Homo sapiens: one gene and its partners. The protein of the gene in region 4 purifies or fractionates together with the protein of the main gene of each other region. This does not show direct contact. Each region holds a gene or a part of one and is shown on either strand. Other genes may lie near its edges. The genes, in order: CTPS2, HS6ST2, SERPINB7, CHST10, VEGFD and SLC67A1.

Evidence for each region.
Region 1: the proteins of CHST10 (region 4) and CTPS2 purify together in Homo sapiens (affinity purification with mass spectrometry; one large-scale study listed by BioGRID and IntAct). This does not show direct contact.
Region 2: the proteins of CHST10 (region 4) and HS6ST2 purify together in Homo sapiens (affinity purification with mass spectrometry, with the first as the bait; one large-scale study listed by BioGRID). This does not show direct contact.
Region 3: the proteins of CHST10 (region 4) and SERPINB7 purify together in Homo sapiens (affinity purification with mass spectrometry; one large-scale study listed by BioGRID and IntAct). This does not show direct contact.
Region 5: the proteins of CHST10 (region 4) and VEGFD purify together in Homo sapiens (co-immunoprecipitation; one large-scale study listed by IntAct). This does not show direct contact.
Region 6: the proteins of CHST10 (region 4) and SLC67A1 purify together in Homo sapiens (affinity purification with mass spectrometry; one large-scale study listed by BioGRID and IntAct). This does not show direct contact.

Annotation. Positions count from the first base shown.
Region 1 is NC_000023.11:16,695,670-16,699,169, forward strand, and holds part of CTPS2 (CTP synthase 2), read right to left. Parts: intron 3,425-3,500; coding exon 3,254-3,424; intron 2,668-3,253; coding exon 2,567-2,667; intron 1-2,566. UniProt on the Homo sapiens protein: Catalyzes the ATP-dependent amination of UTP to CTP with either L-glutamine or ammonia as the source of nitrogen. Constitutes the rate-limiting enzyme in the synthesis of cytosine nucleotides.
Region 2 is NC_000023.11:132,630,130-132,633,629, forward strand, and holds part of HS6ST2 (heparan-sulfate 6-O-sulfotransferase 2), read right to left. Parts: intron 1-3,500. UniProt on the Homo sapiens protein: 6-O-sulfation enzyme which catalyzes the transfer of sulfate from 3'-phosphoadenosine 5'-phosphosulfate (PAPS) to position 6 of the N-sulfoglucosamine residue (GlcNS) of heparan sulfate.
Region 3 is NC_000018.10:63,799,418-63,802,643, forward strand, and holds part of SERPINB7 (serpin B7), read left to right. Parts: intron 1-1,448; coding exon 1,449-1,595; intron 1,596-3,226. UniProt on the Homo sapiens protein: Might function as an inhibitor of Lys-specific proteases. Might influence the maturation of megakaryocytes via its action as a serpin.
Region 4 is NC_000002.12:100,404,169-100,407,668, forward strand, and holds part of CHST10 (carbohydrate sulfotransferase 10), read right to left. Parts: exon of another isoform or gene 3,279-3,500; intron 2,540-3,278; 5' UTR 2,508-2,539; coding exon 2,408-2,507; intron 1-2,407. UniProt on the Homo sapiens protein: Catalyzes the transfer of sulfate from 3'-phosphoadenylyl sulfate (PAPS) to position 3 of terminal glucuronic acid of both protein- and lipid-linked oligosaccharides.
Region 5 is NC_000023.11:15,360,414-15,363,913, forward strand, and holds part of VEGFD (vascular endothelial growth factor D preproprotein), read right to left. Parts: intron 2,907-3,500; coding exon 2,696-2,906; intron 1-2,695. UniProt on the Homo sapiens protein: Growth factor active in angiogenesis, lymphangiogenesis and endothelial cell growth, stimulating their proliferation and migration and also has effects on the permeability of blood vessels.
Region 6 is NC_000011.10:2,915,778-2,919,277, forward strand, and holds part of SLC67A1 (solute carrier family 67 member A1), read left to right. Parts: exon of another isoform or gene 1-422; coding exon of another isoform or gene 423-637; intron 638-844; coding exon 845-963; intron 964-2,210; coding exon 2,211-2,318; intron 2,319-3,500. UniProt on the Homo sapiens protein: May act as a transporter of organic cations based on a proton efflux antiport mechanism. May play a role in the transport of chloroquine and quinidine-related compounds in kidney. Plays a role in the regulation of lipid metabolism.

The DNA of each region.
Region 1 (3,500 bases), on a different chromosome or scaffold from region 4:
GCCTCCTGAGTAGCTGGGACTATAGGCGCCCACCACCACGCCCGGCTAATTTTTTGTATTTTTAGTAGAGACGGGGTTTCACCGTGTTAGACAGGATGGCCTCGATCTCCTGACCTCGTGATCCACCCGCCTCAGCCTCCCAAAGTGCTGGGATTACAGGCGTGAGCCACCACACCCGGCCCTTTTTAAATTTTTTTTAAAGACAGAGTCTCGCTCTGCCACCCAGGCTGGAGTGCAGTAGTGAGATCATGGCTCACTGCGGCCTCAAACTCCTGGGTATAAATGATCCTCCTGCCTCAGCCTCCCAAGTAGCTGGGACTACAGACCTGCACCACCACACTTGGCTGAGTCTTCTTTTTTGGAAAATAAACAAGAAGAAAGAAAACTGTTATTCCTTTAAGACAAGCATAAATTATTTCAGGTTCATGCCAAGATAACTCGTACTAATATAAATAAAACCTGTCAGCTCCACTGGTATGAGAAGTTGAGGTCTCACTCATAAAAATGGCTTTGAAGACATTTCAACAGCTCCTCTATGATTAAAACTAAAAATCAGCTTTGGCAGTCCTTCTTCAAAAGCTTAAATGGTGCACAGACACAACTGTTGAACACAACTTACAATCAACCAAAGAGGATGGTTGACCACTAGTATCCAATAAGCAAATATAAACATCAGGGTTATAACGGAGAAGGGGTTCTGTTTGTCAGTTTCCCTGTTTCCATGAAATTTAAAATCCAGCCAATGAGCTCCTGGAGAGCAGGAGTCAGATCACACTCAACCTCACATCCTTAGCAGCTATCATCAGGGCTAGTACATATTAAGTGCTAAATTAATCATTGTGAAGACAAGTCAATTCAAGGGTAGAATAAGAAATAAAATTAAAAATTTGCCAGGCATAGTGGTGGTACACTGTAGTCCCAGCTACTTGGGAGGCTGAGGCAAGATGATTGGTTGAGCCCAGAAGTTTGAGGCTGCAGTGGGCTTTGATCGCACCTGTGGATAGCTACTGCACTCCAGCCCGAGGCAACATAGCGAGACCCTATCTATAAAAAATAAATAGCCAGTAACTTTATCAGTTCTACTATTAACAAAATGGATCTTCTACATATCATGATATCTGCTAACACTTACATTGATGACAATAATAATAGCTAACTTATGTTCACTGAGCACTTCCTAAATGCCAGACATTGCAAAGTGCTCTGATACATTGCATTTAATCCCCAATCCTGTTATTATCTTATTATTATAATATTATATTATTACATTATTACAAATGAGGACGTTGAAACTGTGAGAATTTTCCAAAAGTCATACAGGCATCTTAATAATAGCTAATAATTTTTAAGCACTTACTATATCTGTGACACCATTCTAAGCACTAAGTGTAGAGACTTATTTAATCTTCAAAACAATGAGTTACAAATGAGTTAAATGAGTTAAAGAGGCACAGAGAGGTTGAGCAAACTTGCCCAAGGTCACCCCCTCCTCCCCATAAGTGACCTTGCTAGGCTACAAACCCAGACAGTTTGCCTCCAGACTCTTAATCACTGAGCTATACGTGGCTCAGGGGTCACTGCAGAAATACAAACTGAGGCAGCCTGACTCTAAGAACCAAATTGGTCATTATTCTGCTCTTTCGCCCGGCAATTAAGCCAACTGACATTTAGAGGAGGAGGATATGGATGTTATTGTCATTCTGCACGTGGAGAGGAAGGGAACAAGGTGAAGGAAGTAAACAAGTGGCAAGTTCAAATACGACTTTTTTTTTTTTTTTTTTTTTTTTTTAAATTAAGACAGGGTCTGGCTCCATCACCCAGGCTGAAGTGCTGGTGCAATCACTGCTCTCTGCAGCCTCAACCTCCCGGGCTCAAAAGATCCTCCCATCTCACCTTCTCAAGTAGCTGGGACTACAGGTGCGTACCAACATGCCTAGCTAATCTTTGTAGTCTCTGTAGAGACGGGTTTTCGCCATGTTGCCCAGGCTGTCTCAAACTCATGGACTCAAGCAATCCTCCCACCCTGGCATCTGAAAATGCCGGAATTGCAGGCATGAGCCACCTCGCGCAGCCACTAGCTTCTTTCTTTAAACAGCTGATACTAATCACTTATCACCGCTACCATCTGACTTCCCTAACCCAGTGTCTCTTTACACTTCCAAAGCACTTCGGAAATACTTTTCAAATAGTATGCACTAGAATGCAGTCTGTTGTGTGTAGACAGGGTTGTCTGCAAGCTCCCCAAGGTCAGAGACTGTGCCCATCCCAGGCCCCGGCACAGAAGAGGCCCTCACATTGACTTTATCAGCAGCTGATCAGTCTCCACAAGCAGATCACTGCACGTCCACCCAGGAGTAGGTGTGATTGTCTGTCTAATGCCAATCTTGCCCACTCACTTGTGACCACAAAGACAGAAGCCATCTATGTTGTTTCTTGCTGTGACCCCACCTCCTAGCCCAGTGTCCAGCACTCAGGAGGGCGTGTGTAAGTATTTGTCAAATAAATGAAGATCAGATGCTCAAAGACCCAGCAGGATATAATTTTATAAAGAAAGTTCTATGCTTGCCTCAATAACGCATATTTGGGGCTCTTCCTTATTACCATCCACCGGCACCTTGGCTTGATTCATAACCCACTCCTGGACAGCATCAGTAATGTGAGGGACAACTGTAGAAAGAAGTATTAATACAAAAGTTTATTCCATGCTCATGAGAAAAGAATGTGCTTTAGGCCTCCCCAATCACCTGAAAGTCACCTGGCAAGTTACCCTGACATATTTTTGGAAAATGAAAAGAAAAAAACGCAACAATTTTAAAAGAATTAGAACTTGTAGAGCGCAGGGACTGTGACATTTTCAGTTCTACTTGGTTTTTTTGGCTTTGTTTTGTTTTTTTTTTTTAAGATGGAGTCTCACTCTGTCGCCCAGGCTGGAGTGCAGTGGCACGATCTCGGCTCACTGCAATCTCTGCCTCCTGGGTTCGAGCAATTCTCCTGCCTCAGCCTCCCGAATAGCTGGGATTACAGGCATGCGCCACCATGCCTGGCTAATTTTTGTATTTTTAGTAGAGATGGGGTTTCACCATGTTGGTCAGGCTGGTCTCGAACTCCTGACCTCAGGTGATCCACTGGCCTCAGCCTCCCAAAGTGCTGGGATTACAGGCCTGAGCCACCGTGCCCGGCCTTCAGTTCTACTTTTGAGCAGTACAAAGATATTCAGCACACAGGGCTCCATAATGTCTGTGGAATATAATACCTTGCACTGTTTTCCCCAGGTAATCACCACGCCTCTCTTTATTGATCACATGCTGATATATCTTCCCCGTGGTGATATTGTTGTCTTTATAAAGATTAATATCCAAAAATCTTTCATAATTTCCAAGGTCTAAATCAACTTCTCCACCATCATTTAAGACGAAGACTTCACCTAGGATTAAAAAGGCAATGGAAAAATCAAAACTTTGCTTCCAGTAGATTTTTCAAAGATGGACATATTTTTGTTA
Region 2 (3,500 bases), on a different chromosome or scaffold from region 4:
CATTGTGCTTTTCATGAGAAATGGGTTACCACTCAGGTACAGAAGATGAAGGACGAGGCCACAGAAGGGCATATTGTGGAAAGAAAGCAACAATAAACATTGAATATTAGCATTTAGCTTCTTAAAGGAAACCCGGAGAATGGCTTGCAACTTTTCTGAAATATTCATTCCCATCTGAGGGAGTGGTTGTTCTCTACACATACATGAGGAGCCACAGGGAACCTGCTCAGCCACCTGCTTAACTGAATATTGGCTGATGTTCATTGAGGAAACGTTTCTCCCAACTGGGGCTTCCATCACCTCAGGCATCCTGAAATCTATCTCCTATGCCTCTATCCTGTACATGGTGCTTGCTCTGCCTGCCATGATCTTCCCTCTTTGGCTGGAAAATTCTACTCATCCTTCAATACCAGTTCAAGTACCATCTCTTTTGTGAAAAAATGTACCCCACTCTGTGTTGCCAGTTATCATTTCTTCCTCTGTGTTGCCATAGCACTTCTATACTTAGCCTTTGTTAAAATATTTGTGATACTGGGGCTGGGCACGGTGGCTCATGCCTGTAATCCCAGCAGTTTGGGAGGCTGAGGTGGGTGGGTTGCTTGAGGTAAGGAGTTTGAGACCAGCCTGGACAACACGGTGAAACCCCATCTGTTAAAAATACAAAAATTAGCCAGGTGTGGTTGTGCGCTCCCGTAATCCTAGCTACTCAGGAGGCTGAGGCACGAGAATCACTTGAACCCAGGAGACGGAGGTTGCAGTGAGCTGTGGTTGTGCCACTGCATTTCAGCCTGAGCAATAGAGTGAGACCCTACCCCTCCACCCCACTGCCTCCCCCAAAAATGTGTGATACTGAATTACAATTAATTGTTTATATTTCCACTTAAACTATGTTTTCAAGGACAGGGGCTCTGTCCTATTCTTCTATATAGCCCTCATCCCATCCATTCCAGCTTTGTACATTGGCCTTCATCCCTGGCATAAAGCAGAATCTCAGTAACTTCTTTAACTGCTTACTTGATGAACTATCCTGGGGAAGAGGAAGGAGAGAGCTAGGGACATGCCTCATGACATAAAAACTCTGGATAATCTTCTAAGTGCCTTGCAAAAAATCACAGGAAGGTTTTTCTTAAAATAAATCACTTTATATATTTTTTCAGGAAGAAACAAGCATTGGGCACAGGAGAAGCATCTGGGAGTGAGGATGGAAAAGGGGCCAAGAGCACTTTCACTTGTCTCACTACTTTCCCTAGGACCTGATCTTGTTGGTGCCACTAAAATTCATCTCTATGAGAAGCCACTGCTAAAGAGTAGCAGCTTTTGTTCTCCAGTAGCCTTTACCAACAAAGATGACTACTAAAGCCCTGGGTTCCCTCCTTCCACTCCTAGCTTTAGTACTCATCCATTCAGTGCATACTTATTGAGCCTTTATGCTAGCCCTGAGGCAACAGTTTAGTGGCAATTAGTCTGATTATTTGGAAAAAAAAAAAAAGAAATTTATTAAGGTCTGTGACACATTTGGATTAACCTTTCAACCAGCTTTTCCAGGCATGCATTGTAATGGGGGCTGCTCGGTGTTCTAACCCCCCAAAATGGAGTCACCTTCATGCTTAGCTGGAAGTCTTCTTGCCCTAACTTCTTGTATTGGTTTAAGCCTACAGTGACATCTTCTGGTAAATATTAAGAGTGCACCACAGTGGAAGTCTGCAGCTCTCCTTCCTAAACATTGTTCCTAGCCTTTCAGAGCAAATACATCCCAACCACCAGGGTTAATGACACAATCAATGTTTCATAAGCACCACCCCTACCCCAACATGGATAGAGAGAAGGCAACACAGAGACAGACTTTCAGAGAGGGTCTCTCATGTTGTGGGTGTGTGGATCCAGTATGCATTCAACTTGAAGGTCACCTAGTGCCCTTAAGAAATACGGACAGCCCAACGTAGGCAGCCTCAGTGTCTACACTGTAGGGATTTTCACTGCAGCAGAGAAGTTAGAGGGGCACACACATACACACACTGCTGCCTTGGTGATAACAGCCACCTAGACTCATATGACAAAACCTGCAGAGATTCAGTGAGTGTCAACAGCCCCCTTCTTCCAGGGCAAATAGCCTTGGGGACCCAGAATGCCTCAACTGAAAGCACTTGATGCTGCTTAGAAATATTCCATGTGTAGAAAGAAAGAAAGATCTGCTGAAGGGTAGGTGTCCAGGGTCCAGGGGTCTCCTGAATTTCATGGTGTGTTGGAAGTAGGAAGGCAGGTAAAGATAACACCTTGGAGGTTATGTCAGAAAAAGAATCCAGGATGCTCATTATATCCAAGGAAGAGCTTTTAGGGCAATATCAGAGAAGCACGCTGGGGAATGCAGCTGGGGTCGGGGGCAAACAGAGACATGGCCAGTTTTCCCTCAGTGGTCAGGTCAGGTCAAGACTTGCTTAGTCTTGGCACCTAATGTGTGCCTGGCACTATGGCAGGCACTGGGGATACAGACAGGGATAAGACATGGAAACCCGGGGAAAGTGTTTCAATTGTGTGTGCCATGAATGCTTGGAGCAAGTGCAGGGTATGATTAAAAAAAAACACCTCACACTGATTTCTAACCTAGCCTAAAGATAAGACAAGGGTTTCTGCAGCTTTATTTTGAAAAACAAGAATTAGATGAGGCAACTGGGCACGGTGGCTCACACCTGTAATTCCAGCACTTTGGGAGGCCAAGGTGGGCAGATCACTTGAACCCAATAGTTCAAGACCAGCCTGAACAACATGGTGAAACCCTGTCTCTGCAAAAAATAGAAAAATTAGTGGGCGTGGTGGTGCACACCTGTAGTCTCAGCTACTAGGGAGGCTGAGGCGAGAGGATCACTTGAGCCTAGGAGGTAGAAGCTGCAGTGCACCATGGTATCACCACTGCACTCCAGCCTGGGTGACAGAGTGTGAGACTCCATCTCAAAAAAAAAAAAAAAAAAATGAGTCAAGGAGAGAGGAAAGGAGTATGAGACAGAAGGATCAGCATGAGCAGAGGCACAGAGGCATAAACCAGCCTATTGTGCAAGAGAAACGTGCATCAAAAAACCTCCCGGGGAGTGAAGGAGTAGTGGCAGGAATTGAAGATGGAGAGGGAGCCCAGGACCTGGTTGTGAAAGGCCACAGATGCCATATTAAAGCATTCAAAGTTAATTCTGCAGGCAACAGAGAGGCTTTGAAGGGCTTTAAGCAGGGGAATGACATGATGAGGTCTGTGTTTTAGAAAGATCATTATGTATATGAAGATGAAATTCGTGAAGTTAGTTAAGAGGCCACTGCAGAAGACAAGGCAAAAGAGAAGGAGGAGCAGACTAGAGAAATATTTAGCGGGTAAAAGTGACAAAAGGGATTCGGGGGAGAAAGAGGAGGAGGACTTAAGGATGCCTCCTAGAGCTCTGGAGGAAGGACTGAGGTGCCTGCGGGACATCTGAGTAGAGTTGAATGAACAGATCTGGCACTCAGAGAGCAACCTGGGC
Region 3 (3,226 bases), on a different chromosome or scaffold from region 4:
TTTTCTCCTAATTTCTTTTTATTTTAAAAAGCATTACTATATCATAATATTGTTTTAAACACTCTTCCTGCTAGTCCACACACCCTATGTAATGTAGCTATAGCAGACAGCTTGTAATGTAATATGCTGTTGAATCTAGATCTCTGATATCAATGTTAGTTCTATCATATTAAAAATTGGTGACATAATCTCTCCAGCATAACCCAGATGTGTGATTCTTTCCCTGCCCCAGTGAGACATCCTGTCTATCACATCCCAGTCCCCATGTGTATCAGGCTCAATTCTGGGGACCTGTCTCACTAAGCAGGTAGATTTCATGTGTGTTCTTTCTGAGGATTGGACTTTAAGTCAAAAAAGGCAACCTTTCCAGAGAAGGACCTTTGGTTCAAGGACAGAGAATTATCTGTCCTCCCCATGTAGGATGTTTTTTCCTAAAAGGGGATATTACAGAAATGTTGACAAGTTTGCAGATCGTAATATTACTAGGAGAAAATTTATTGCACCTCAGTGTTGTCTCTAAATCTATAAATGATATTCTCAAGATAAGAGCTACTTATTTTTTGCCCTAGTGAATTTGAGGGACATTATCAAATACCTTGCAGGAATCTCTATTTTTCTGAGACCTCATGCTTAAATAGCGTATTTTTTTTTTTTTTGAGACAGGGTCTTAAGCTTGCTCAGGCTGGAGTGTAGTGGTGAACTCACTGCTCACTCTAGCCTTGACCTCTTGGGCTCAGGTGGTCCTCCCACCTCAGCCTCCCAAGTAGCTGGGAGTACAGGCATGTTCCACCACACCCAGCTGTTTTTTATTTTATTTTATTTTTAGTAGAGATGCAGTCTCGCCATGTTGCTCAGCCTGGTCTTGAGCTCTTGGGCTCAAGTAGTCCTCTTGCCTGGACCTCCCAAAGTGCTGGGATTACAGGCATGAGCCACAGCGCCTGGTCTTAAATCATGTAATTTTGTTAGTACTAGTCTGTGTTTTACTTCTGAGAAGAAAAAAAAACCTATAGCATTCATTTTTCATTTTAATGTTATTTAGTAAATTTTCATTACTTATTATAGAGACTTTTCAGTTAAAATACTAAGTACAAGGCAATGTTCCAAGTGCTAGCTATATTAATTCACATAATCCTCACAACAATCCTGTACAGCAGGGATTATAGTCATTCCCATTCTATAGATGAGGAAATGGAGGAACAGAGAGGAACAGTAACTCACCCAAGGTCACATAGTTAGGAAATTTTAAACTCAAGGAATCAAATTTGAAGTCTTGGCTTTACCACTAAGATTTGCACCAATGCAACCACTATTGGTAACATGTCAGGAAAAAATCTGCAGGGTCAACTGAGCAAAAATTTATTGACCAAGTACAATATTCTTATATGTATTTGGTTAATAAAGTAAAATGAGGTGGGATCATAAATAATTTTTTGTGACTTGACTTTCAGTGCTCTGGGAAGGCAGTCGCCATGATGCATCAGGAACGGAAGTTCAATTTGTCTGTTATTGAGGACCCATCAATGAAGATTCTTGAGCTCAGATACAATGGTGGCATAAACATGTACGTTCTGCTGCCTGAGAATGACCTCTCTGAAGTAAGTTACGACTGTCATTTTCACTATTGGGAAATAAGACTTTTAGGATACTGTTGATTGAGTTTTCACTGATAAACTGTAAGATTTCAGGGTATTGAGATACTAGAGACTTACCTGCTTATTAATTTATTTGACAAATATTTAAGGGGTACCTAGTATGAGCCAGACATCATTATAGTTGCTGAGATTGACTTAACTCAGTTTAGCATAATTTCAGTTGAGTAGTGATCAAATTGGAACTCTCTCAAATGTCAGCTATGGAATTAAAAAGACATGAGTTTAGGCCTTTTTGGTGTTTGGCCATGAATACAGTCTTCTACGTGTCATTGAAATTTTGCTAGACTGAGCATCTTTAGGCAGGTATGATATGATAGAGTCCTGAGCCTTTTAGAATTAAAATGTATGGTCTCACTGTAATTGGACAAGAGGGTCTCCCTGCCTGCTGCACAGACAAAATCAATTCACTGAGGGCACAGCATTGTAGTAAAGAGAGTTTAATTGATGCAAGGCCGACCATGCCACATGGGAGATGAAGTCACTACTACTCAAATCAATCTCCCTGAAGGTTTGGAGGTTAGGAGTTTTCAAGGATAGTTTGGTGGGCAGCGGTCTAGGGAATGAGCACTGTTGATTGGGTGGGGATGCAGTCACAAGCGTGTGTAAAACTGTCCTCATGCACTGAGTCCACCTCTGGACTCTGTGGGGGCCAGAGGACCGGTTTAGTCATGAGTCATGAGTCCAAGTGGAGTTAGTGTCAGAAATGTAAAAGTCTGAAAAGACATCTCAAAAGGCCAGTCTTAGGTTCTACAATAGTGATAGTATCTACAAGAGTCATTGAGGGGGTTACAAATTTTATGGCCTCCATAACAATGATTGGTTAATGTTTACTATCTCTACATCGTGGCGGAATTCAGGCCTCTCTCATAATCATAATCATGTGGTCTTTCATTAGTTTTACAAAGGTGGTTTAGTTTTGGGAAGGGCTACTATGATCCTTGCTTTACATTCAAACTATAAACTAAATTTCTTCCAAAGTTATCTTAGCCTATGCCAAATAATGACCAACAACATCTTGGAGGTTAGCAGCAAGATCAAGTCAACTATGTCAGATTTCCTACTGTTATAATTTTGCAAAGGCAGTTTCATCACTCCATGCTGCTGTGTCTCAAGTGAAAAGCACAGTTTAGGGACTGCCCTGTGACTGATGTGGCAGGAGAAATGGACCAACACAGTGCAATGGGGAGACGGTGGGGGCCGTGCAAGCCAGACACCACCACTGAATCTCAGAGCCTGATCTTTTTTCAGCCCTTTTTCTGCTTTTCCTCCTCCTGAACTTGGCTCTTTGAGTTTGATCTGCAATCTCAGAGGCCTGGACTCATCTCCCTTCTCTATTCTCTCATTAAAAAGGAATAATAGGTGCCATTTATTGAGCACCTACTACATCCCAGGCCATGTGCTCTGAGCTTCATTTATATTACCTTGTTTGATGTTTATAGCAAGCATGTGAGATAGGGAAGGGAGGCTGACAGAATTTGGTCAATTTTTCTGATAGATACATATGTATAGATATGCATATTTGTGTGTATGTATGTGCACACACATATATGTATGTCAGCTATACTGAAAAGTTA
Region 4 (3,500 bases):
GCAGGCTGGGTAGTGCTGTGGTGGTCACCCCGCAACGGGAGTGGGCCCACAACAGAAGATTCTCACTGAGTTCACTGCACACTGTGCGGCCAACAGCATCCTCACCACCAGCAGCCCCTGCCTCGGGGTCAGGGGCAGCACTCCCATCTCAGTGACCCAGCACCCACACACCACACCAGATCTCACAGGGCAGGGAAAGTGCCCCCTTTCACTCGCCTGAAGGCAGCCGGCTGGAAAGATCTCACAGGCAGTATTAAGGACCGCTGCGGTGCTCCTCTCCAGGTGTAAAATCCGAAAGCCCTTCATCTTTCTTCATAGGTTTTATCTCCTAACACTCCTTACCACTCCTTTTCTCCGCTTCACAAAACCCTGTTCTGCGCCTACACTTGCTTTTTTTCTAACCGGGCCTACCCCTGCTTAGCTTCCAGGATCAGTGTCTACACTGAAAACATTCAGCACAAAACTTGATACATCAAAGGAGAATGAGACCTCATTTACCAGATGCCGCTGGGAAACAAGGCATTCTTTAGAGGCCATTCTGCCAGATAACAGTAAAACACAAAGGCACAAGTCTTATTTAACTATTACCTATAGAAGTCTCACTAAAATGTATTACATCTACTCCTACTTTTTTAAGCAAAATAAACCATAAACAATTTAACCTCATGACCTGCCTTTTGAGTGCCTTCCATACCAGGAGGTGACATTTAGGAGAATCCTGAGTAACACCTATTTCTTATTCTCAGCAGCTCTGTTTCTCTTCAGTTCTCCAGCTAGGATCTACCACTGTGCTTCTCAACTGGGCCCCACCCCTAGTGATTCTCCTTCACTGGGTCTCAAGCAGCAGCAGGTCTGTAAAGTCCCACAGGTGATTCTGAAGTGCTGCGGGGATGAGAACCCGGCTCTAGGGCTTCAGGAGGGATCTCTCAGTGGCATGGCACTGTGCTGAAGCTGCCATGGAAATGTCCAAACTGTCAAACTGAGATCATCGTGTCACATTCCAGCAACCCTCCAAGAATCGACCCTTGCTCTGCTGACGGAACCCCGAGTCCCGGGCGTGAGCTGTCATGCTCAGTGACACCTGCCCAGATACCTGCAGGTGTAATATCACCTCCCGAGGCTGTGCAGACCTCACAGGTTTCTCTCCAGGGCTCCTGGAGGATGAGGCAGGACATGTGATGACAGCCAATCAGGGCCCAACAACTGTCATGGGGAGAACCACCATGTGGGCTAATTTCAGGGTGTCCCTCTTTTCCCTGCAGACCTCCCTTCTAACCTTGCTGTCCCTCTGCAGACAAGGTGGGGCAGAGAGAGGATGGGGCAGGAGGTGTAGGACATCGGGCAGTCCTTGACACAGCCAGGGACATGCCTGGGAGCTCTGTGAGGTGGAGCAGGGGCCTGTCCCACACAGACAGCACAGGTCAGTGCAGCCTCCAGGAAGAACTGCTGGCACAGAGGCATCTCTAACTGCCCCTTTCCAAGGCCACCATCGGCAGGAGGACAAAGTACGGTGCAGAGCACAGCAAAGTGCTGTGCTCATCCACGTTCCCCAGTATCTCCCAATCAGCCTAAAGGAATGGGCCAATCCACGGCACAAATGAGGACTTCAATGACTCCATGTGTCTGGCTTCCTCGTGCTTGCCTGCTTGGCCACTCAATGAAGTGGCCTCGGGGCTGGAGAGCATATCACACACCTCTTTGGACATATCCAGCACTCCACAGACCACAGAGCACCTCACCATGCTCAGGGCAATCATGGGCGGTGCCGGAGCAGGCAGGGTGTCCATTTGGTGGAAGAAACATTGTGATGTAGATAAGCAAATGACAAGAGCACGAAGTAGAATCAGCATTCTGAGACCCAATTTGGCGCTCTTTATCCGTCCTCATCTGAATGCCTACGTTCAGTAAAGGAGAGCTAAGAAAGCCTCCAAGACAACCTGAAGACATACATTTAAATGACCCTCCTCCGCTGCATGGAGGGTGACCTTCAAACATGTGGCCACCACACGGGCATGCCAAGCAGTTGAGGCTGCACCTCTCATGATGACATGAGGCAAAGAGAATTCCCAACTGCGAGCCTGAGAGGCGCCCTGCTGCAAGGCATAAGGCCACTGTGCTGCTGGGAGGAGACCCTGCTCCTTGCTCCTAGGCACCACCCAGGCCTCAGCCACAAAGAGCAGCTTCCTTCCTCCAGAGGAGATGCTTGAAAAGACCCTCCAGCCCCTCCCACCCTACCTCCCCTCACACCTCTGTAACATGAAGGAACGGAGGCCATGACCTCCAAGGTCCCTGCTGGCATGAAAGTCCTTTGACTCTGTGACAGAAGTCATCTATGCATGTACCTAGGAACAGTGTTGCAGCTAGGTCTAAATTAGCCAAAATTCGTTCCACCATGAAGCATACGTACCATCTGGGTCTTTAAAGGTCAACGTGATGAACTTGCTAGCCACCATGAACATGAAAATCACCCAAAAGCATGCGGCCAGCAGAAGCCACTGGTGGTGCATGTTGTCACACCGCAGCCATTCACTGACTCTTCCTGGAAAACACAAGCGAGATGCCCCTGCTGCTTACAAATACATCAAGTCAACAAAGAGGAATGAAAACGACAGGTGATTTCAGTCAGTAAGTATCAGCACAAATATTTCCGTTTTTTTCCACTGCTACAATAGGTAGTTTGACTTGGCATTTAACATTTCATATTGAATTAATAATATAAATGATTGATTCAATAATAAAATCAAATTTAGAACACCCTAATGGAGAGACATGATAATGAGAGAAGACCACTTCCTTGTGTTCTCAGAACACAGAATAAGACTCCTTTGCACATTTGATCCCTGACTCCTGTTGGGCCCAGGCTAAGGTCCCAGTGAGCTCCCACGATGGTCTGGAAGCAGGTGGCAGGAAGAGGCCTGCCAAGGACTAGGCCTTAGCTGAGGGTCATTCATAGTGGGCAGAAGCCATGCTGGGGCAATTAGGAGCTGGCTGTGTTTAAAATTCTGACTGGCTGACAAGATGTAGCCACACCTAGAGAAGCTCTAAAAAAGCAAAGGAATGAACACTGACGCTTCTCGCCTCCGCCCACTTGCCAGCAGCGGCCTGGGTAGAACACTGAGGTGGGTGTTTTTCATGCTGTCACAGCCAGGGAGCAACACGGGGCATGTCGGTCCTCAGCCTGGCACAGAAGCCACACTCTCCTGCAGGAGGCACATAAAGAACTGGGAAGTCACTGTCAGTTCTTGGCAGGTGACACAAGAAAGTGTGTTTCATTTCACCTTTAACACAGTGCTTCTTCAAGCCAAAGCTCTCCACGTACAGACAAGACCCTGGGCTGAGCTGGCTTCCACCGACTGACTGAGGCCATCCATCACTTCTGCATGGCAGGGAGAAGTGGTCCCCTCAACACAGTGCTGATGGCAAATAATTTCAGAGAGAGCCTCCTAACCCTGGGTGGGTCAGAGCTCCATGAAGACCCAGGTGAATCACTCTCCTTGTCT
Region 5 (3,500 bases), on a different chromosome or scaffold from region 4:
CTGCAACCTCCACCTCCTGGGTTCAAGCGATTCTCCTGCCTCAGCCTCCCAAGTAGCTGGGATTACAGGTATGCGCCACCATGCCCAGCTAATTTTTGTATTTTTAGTAGAGACGGAGTTTCACCATGTTGGCCAGGCTGGTCTTGATCTCTTAACCTTGTGATCCGCCCACCTCAGCCTCCCAAAGTGCTGGGATTAAAGGCGTGAGCCACTGTGCCCAGCCCCCAAGAAACCTTTTTAAAAATTTCTGATTATTAATATTTATATAAAAAGCCTGAAGGCTGAACACATGAGAGATAAATTACTCAATTAAGTATTATTATGGTTATTATTTAATTCACTATAATTAATCATGAATCCTTGAAAAAACAAGAAACCAACCTATGAAAATATTCCCAATTTAAAATTCTACTTAAAGGTTGCTTTCCATTTGCTTTTTCTCTTTTTATAAAACTAAGTTTTGAAATTGGAGTGGTAAGCTTTTAATCAAAATCATATGCAATTATGACCAACATCACTGATTAAAGGCTTCATAACTCTACTATTCTTTACTGCTTCCCAGCAGGACTGCTCTGCCTCAGGAAATTACCTTGAAATCCACAAGGGAGAGTTGATAACAAATTCTAATTGGTGTAACATGCTGATTTCATTATTGACTGCTTCTAACTTAGTAAATAACTTCAGATGATCCCCTAGAAATTACGAGATAAATTCATAGGGTTTGCAAATTCCGTGATATTTTAATGGTTTTCTCCTTAGAAAATGTCAATGTCATTGACTTTTTTTAGATCACCTAGTCTTGGTTTTATGGTAACGTTCATGTTCATGAAATAGCTCCAGGTTCACCTCAGGCCTTCAGTCAGGTAATCTGGTTAAGGCCTTTGACCTCTAGATGAGGTGCCAACCCTTTGTTCTCATGAAGGCTATATTAATTCACCACATAGAAACATCTAGAGCTTCAAATTTCTGTCTGAAGTGAGCTCGAGGCTATGGTTCCTACCACATCAACTCACTTAGACACACAGTCATACACATGAACACTAAGAATCCTCTTCACACTCATGCCCAAGGTGCTACCAAAGAATATGTCCCCATCTATGCACAGCTCTCCCCACAGCCAACAACAGAGGTCTGTGCAACCCCAACATCTTTTTACAAATGGGAAAAAACAAATACAATTTTAGGTAGAAAGAAAAAAATAGTTTTGGCCTAGTGGTTAATTTGAATTATGCTATATATATAGTCAGTTACCAGGTAATCATGTTAATCAAATCTAGAATGCTAGATCAGCAATGCTGTAGCAGCTTCTTGTGTTGTTTTGACATGACATCAAAAAATTAAGTGCCTAATCAGAAACCACAGAACTTTACTTGACAAGCATTTTATTCATTATGACAGTACCTACTCACACTGGTTTTCTTTCTTTCTTTCTTTGTTTTTTTGTTTTGTTTTGTTTTGTTTTTTTGTTTTTTAAGATGGAGTTTCACTCTTGTTGCCCAGGTTGGAGTGCAATGGTGCAATCTTGGCTCACTGCAACCTCCGCCTCCTGGGTTCAAGTGATTCTCCTGCCTCAGCCTCCCAAGTAGTTGGGATTACAGGCATGCACCGCCATGCCTGGCTAATTTTGTATTTTTAGTAGAGATGGGTTTTCACCATGTTGGTCAGGCTGGTCTCGAACTCCTGACCTCAGGTGATCCACCTGCCTCAACCTCCCAAAGTGCTGGGATTACAGGTGTCATCCACCACACCTGGCCTGATTTTCTTTTAAAGAATCTTCATACGTTACTAGGGAACGATCATTATCCTTATTTCAAATTATGTTATTTTCTAGTCTGGAGTTTTGATCATTTTGTCTTGAGAATTTTCTCCCTTCATTATTCTCCTAGCAATACCAGTACCCAATATTACAACTCAGTGTCTAACTTTTACTTTTCACTTTTACTAAAAAATCACACAACTTTGCAGAAATAAAAAAAAAAGCTATACCTAATCTATTGGTTCGGGGAGGGGGTGGTTTTTTTGAGACAGGATCTTGCTCTGTTGCCCAGGCTGGAGTGCAGTAGCATGATCATGGCTCACTGCAGCCTCGACCTCCTGGGCTCAGCCGATCCTCCCACCTCAGCCTCCCAAGTAGCTGGGAATACAGGCACGTACCACAATGTTCAGCTATTTTTTTCTATTTTTTTGTAGAGATGGGGTCTCGTCATGTTGCCCAGGCTGGTTTCAAACTCCTGGGCTCAAGCGATCTGCCGTTCTTGGCCTCCCAAAGTGCTGGGATTACAGGCATGAGCCACCATGCCTGGCCATCTTTGGTTTTTGTCTATGTATGTATGGCAGTAGAATACTCCTTGTGGATGAATCCCCAGGTTTTATTTTCTAAGTAAACCTGATGATTGTTTTTCTATTGAGAACAATAGTCTTCCTGGGTTTTCTTTGCCCCCACATCCTTGAGTTAAATTTATTTCTATATTTTGAGATGTTCTTTTGTGTTTTTTATCTCAAAATCATATTGAATATATTTCTCTGTGAAGTAAACATTAAAAAATCAAGATTCTGCACTAATACTGGAAATCAAAGACCGACTTTCATTCTCCCTCTGACACGTGTCTGCCCTACGCAGACTTTTGGAGAAAGTAAGTGTGTTTGTCACTATCTAATAAAGAGAAAGAATTTGTCTCCACATCCACACACCTACCTTTTAGTGTTTCAATGTCATAGAAAGTTGCCGCAAACCTAGTGGACCGATGGGATGCTGAGCGAGAGTCCATACTGGTAAAACTTTTGAGCCTCAGCCTGCATCTCCACAGCTTCCAGTCCTCAGAGTGAGTAATTCGAAGTAGTTCCTCCAAACTAGAAGCAGCCCTGATCTGCTGTTCAGATCGTTCCAATGTGGACTGAGATGATCGCTTAAAAAAACAAAAATACCAGTTTAAAAACAAGTTACTAAATTTTAAATTTGTCATAATAATCTTCATTTCTGACACTTAGAAGTGTAAATACATCTGTAATTAGAGATACTATTGAAACGTATGCCAGTGCCTAGGAAAAAGGATATCTTCTAGTATTTTTGGTTTACATTCTGCTCATTTTTGATTGAATCAGAGGATTTACTTATTCTTCCTGGGTTCTCAGAACACTTACAAAGAAAATTGTAGTGCATTGAATGGTGGGCCTCAAAATGATATGTCCACATCCTAACCCACAGAACCTGTGAACATTACCTTAATTTGGACAAAGGATCTGTACAGATGTAATGAAGTTAAGGATCTTAAAATGAGATCCTCCTGGATTATCTATGTGGACCCTAAATACTGTACAATGACAAGTGTCCTTATAAGAGACAGAAGAGAAGACAGGGACACAGAGGAAGGTCATTTGAAGATGGGGGCAGAGACCGGAGTGATGCAGTGACAAGCGGGGGATTGCCTAGAGCCATCAGAAGCTGGATGAAGCAAGAAAAGATTCTCTCCAAGAGTGTTTTGAGGGCGTGCAGCCTTGCT
Region 6 (3,500 bases), on a different chromosome or scaffold from region 4:
ACTTCCTCCTGTCTCTCCCTGAGGGGAGGGGGCTGGCTGAGCCCCCAGGAGGCAATGGTGACAGTTGGAACAGCCAGCTTCAGGTGCCTCCGTCCCCAGGAGACAAGACCTGCCGATTCCTTCCAGGGGAATCACAGGCCAAGTTTCCAGGTGGGGACTCATGGCAGGGAAGCTGACGGTACAGCCAGAGTCCCAGGCCTTGGTAGTGGCCCAGGAAGGTGGGAAGGTGGCAAAGCAGCCTGAGGGGCACCTCCGGGGCTTTGCAAGGCTCTGGGATCCCAGCCCAAAGCCCCCTCCAAGCCCAGCATGCCCCACACTCTAGAAAGTGGGGAGGGGCCAACAGGAGGGGGGTCGGTTTCTGAGGGCCTGCTGAATGCCAGGCCCACCCTTGCCCACGCTGGGGAGGCAGCATAGCCATCCCCATGACACAGCACAGGTGCCCAGGTCTCGGAGAGCCCCTCCCAGGGACATGCACACCAGGCTTGCCCTTTGGAGCCTCTCCTGACCTTGGCCAGCGTGGGAGCTGCTGTTCCTGGGAGGATCCGCCACCTGCCCCAGGCGCTCACCAGCCTGGCTTCCACAGCTGCTACCCACAGGGGCTGCCGGGGCCTGCATGGCGTGGCGAGGGTCAGGGATGGTGAGCGCCCCACCCATTCCTTCATCCATCACCTAATAAATGTGCTCTGAGGGTCCCAGTCCCCACTCTTTAGGCCACAGACTGTGGGGATGTGGGAGGTCAGATTTAAGCTATTTTAGTGCAACCAAAGGTGCAGGTTGGGGGATGTGGCTGGGGCGCCTGGGCCCTGGGACCCGCACCCTGTGCAGCCGAGGCTGTTGCCCGCAGGATTCAGTGCCCGGCCATCCTGGCTGCCCTGGCCACCCTCCTGGGAGCTGTCCTCAGCTTCACCTGCATCCCCGCCAGCACCAAAGGGGCCAAAACTGACGCCCAGGCTCCACTGCCAGGTAAGCCCCGCCAGGTACACCCTGCCCAGATGCTGGGGCAATGGAAGGCATTGGCTAGGCCTGCGTGCTCCAGCCAAGGGGTACGGGGGGCCTGAGGGGAAATCTGGGGGCTACTCACACCCTCCTGCCTTCCTTGAACCCTTCCCAGCTGCTGACATCATAGAAGCCAAGTGAGGTGTGGTCATGAAGAGGTGGAAGTGGGGCTCCGGCAGGCAGGGAGGCCCAGAGAGGCAGGAAGGCCCAGACAGGGAAGGCGTTAGGAGGGGAGGCCCAGACAGGGAAGGTGCTAGGAGGGGAGGCCCAGAGAGGCCTGGGGAGGACCAGGAGGGACCCCCCCAATGGGGTGGGTGGGCCAGCAAGGCTCCGGAAGCTCTGAGTGTCCAGGGAGAGGCGAGGGTGCTGCCCGAGGGGCACTCATTGGTGGAGGGCAGAGGATGGTCAGGCTGGTCCCATGAGGAGAGGCCAAGGCTCCTCAGAGGGGGTCCCCTCAAGGCTGGCCCCCTGCTGAACGCAGCCCCTTTGTGCCAGGCACGTGGCAGGGCCCATGCCTCGGTGCCTAGGGACTAAGAGCCCAGCCTGGGCCAGAGGGACCCACCTGGGACCATCCTGGGGCAGGAGGCTGTCATGGAATTAACCTAGAAAGTCCAGGGGGAGGGCCGGGTGGAGATGGGCCTGTGGCGAGCACAGCAGAGCCAGAGAGGCAGGAGCCCCTGAGACAATAAGGAGGAAGGACTCGGTGAGCCGGGCTGGGGGCCTGTGGCTTCGCACTCAGAGGTGCCCGGTGGGCCAGGCCACGGCGGTGACTTGTGGCCACAGAGAGTGGTACAGTATTGCCATTGTCTTCCTCTGGGCTGGTGGCCTGGTCATGCTCTGCCCCAGGCCCCAGGCCAGGACCATATAGGAAGCAGCTATTGGTCCCTTGTTCAGGGACTGCCGCAGGCCTCCGCCACTGCATGCCCAGGTTGAGGCCAGTCTACCTGCGTGCAGAGAATGCTTTTCCTAAGTGCCTCTGGGGATTCAGGGGGCCCCTAGGAATGCGTAGAAGTGTGCTGAGGGGCGGTGCCCAACCTGGCAGCTGGGAGCATCACCAGCTCCCATTCCCACAAGTGAGCGGTGCTGAAGCCAAGGAAGGAAGCTTTACCCTGGCGGGCGCAACAGGGCCCTCCGAATGGCGAGGCCTGCAGCCGGGCGAGGGGTGGGCATTGGGACAATGGCCTTTGCAGGCCTGAATGGCCTCTCCGTGCCAGGCGGCCCCCGGGCCAGTGTGTTCGACCTGAAGGCCATCGCCTCCCTGCTGCGGCTGCCAGACGTCCCGAGGATCTTCCTGGTGAAGGTGGCCTCCAACTGCCCCACAGGTGAGTCCCAACTACTGCCCCAACAGCGGCCAGAGCCTGGCAGAGTCCCAGCTGCGGCCAGGGCCCGGCCCTTCCTCTGGCCTGTGCCCCACAGGTCCACACAGATGTGGTAGAGCAGGCAGGAGCGGGAGGAAGGCAGAAAAGTGTCTTTCCCACCTCCTTCCAGCCCCTCTACACTGCACACCTGCAGATCCCAGGGTGGGCCCCCACGGGCAGAGGGCCTGGCTCGCAGCCATGCATCCCTGTGTGCTCCTCAGCTCTTACCCTCATACCCTGTGGCCCCACGTCCTCTCCAGACAGCCTGAGATGCAGGGACAGCAGGTCTGAGTGTCACCACTGCCTTCTGCAGCATGCTGGCCCTGGGCCCTCTCAGCAGACCGTAGGGCGTCACGGACCACAGATAGGATAGCGAGCCACGGACAAGCCCACGAGCAGCCCTGTCCCTCAGAAGCCCCGCCTGGACTCCTCTAACTGAGAAGCCAGGAAGCAGGATGGAGAATAGGCCCTCAGCACTCCAACTGGCACCGGCCCCTGTCCCACCCAGCCCACCTAGGCCAGCTCTGTTGGTTCTCAAAACTGGAACCCAAGTTACTAACCTCAGTAACAGGCCCTTTGAGGGCCCTTTTTTTTTTGAGACCACTGACCAGGCTGGAGTGCAGTGGTATGATCTCAGCTCACTGTAGGCCCCACCTCCCAGGCTCAAGCAATCCTCCTGTCTCAGCCTCCCGAGCAGCTGGGACTACAGGCATGGGCCACCACGCTCAGCTAATTTAAGTGTTTGTAGAGACAGGGTCTCACTATCTTTTCCAGGCTGGTCTCAAACTCCTGGCCTCAATCAGTCCTCCCTCTTCGGCCTCCCAAAGTGCTGGGATTGCAGACGTGACTTTGAGGGCTCTTATAACAGAGAGCCGTGGTGGGTCTTGGGGGCCAAATCCTCCCACGTGGTCAGCCCTGGGTCCCTCCCTTCCAGCACCTTCCTGCTCACAGTCCAGAGCTTAGCAACCACACGAGAGGCACTTTCCACACCAGGGATACGGCAGAATCCCAGGGAAGGGTCTCATTGGCCCGGCTGGCATCACAGGCCCCTCCCTGAACCAGTCACCAGCCAGGGCCCAGACACCCTGATTGGCCAGGCTGCTGAGGCGGGAGGGAGGTGGGCGCCAAGGTCGGGGTGTGGGGGTA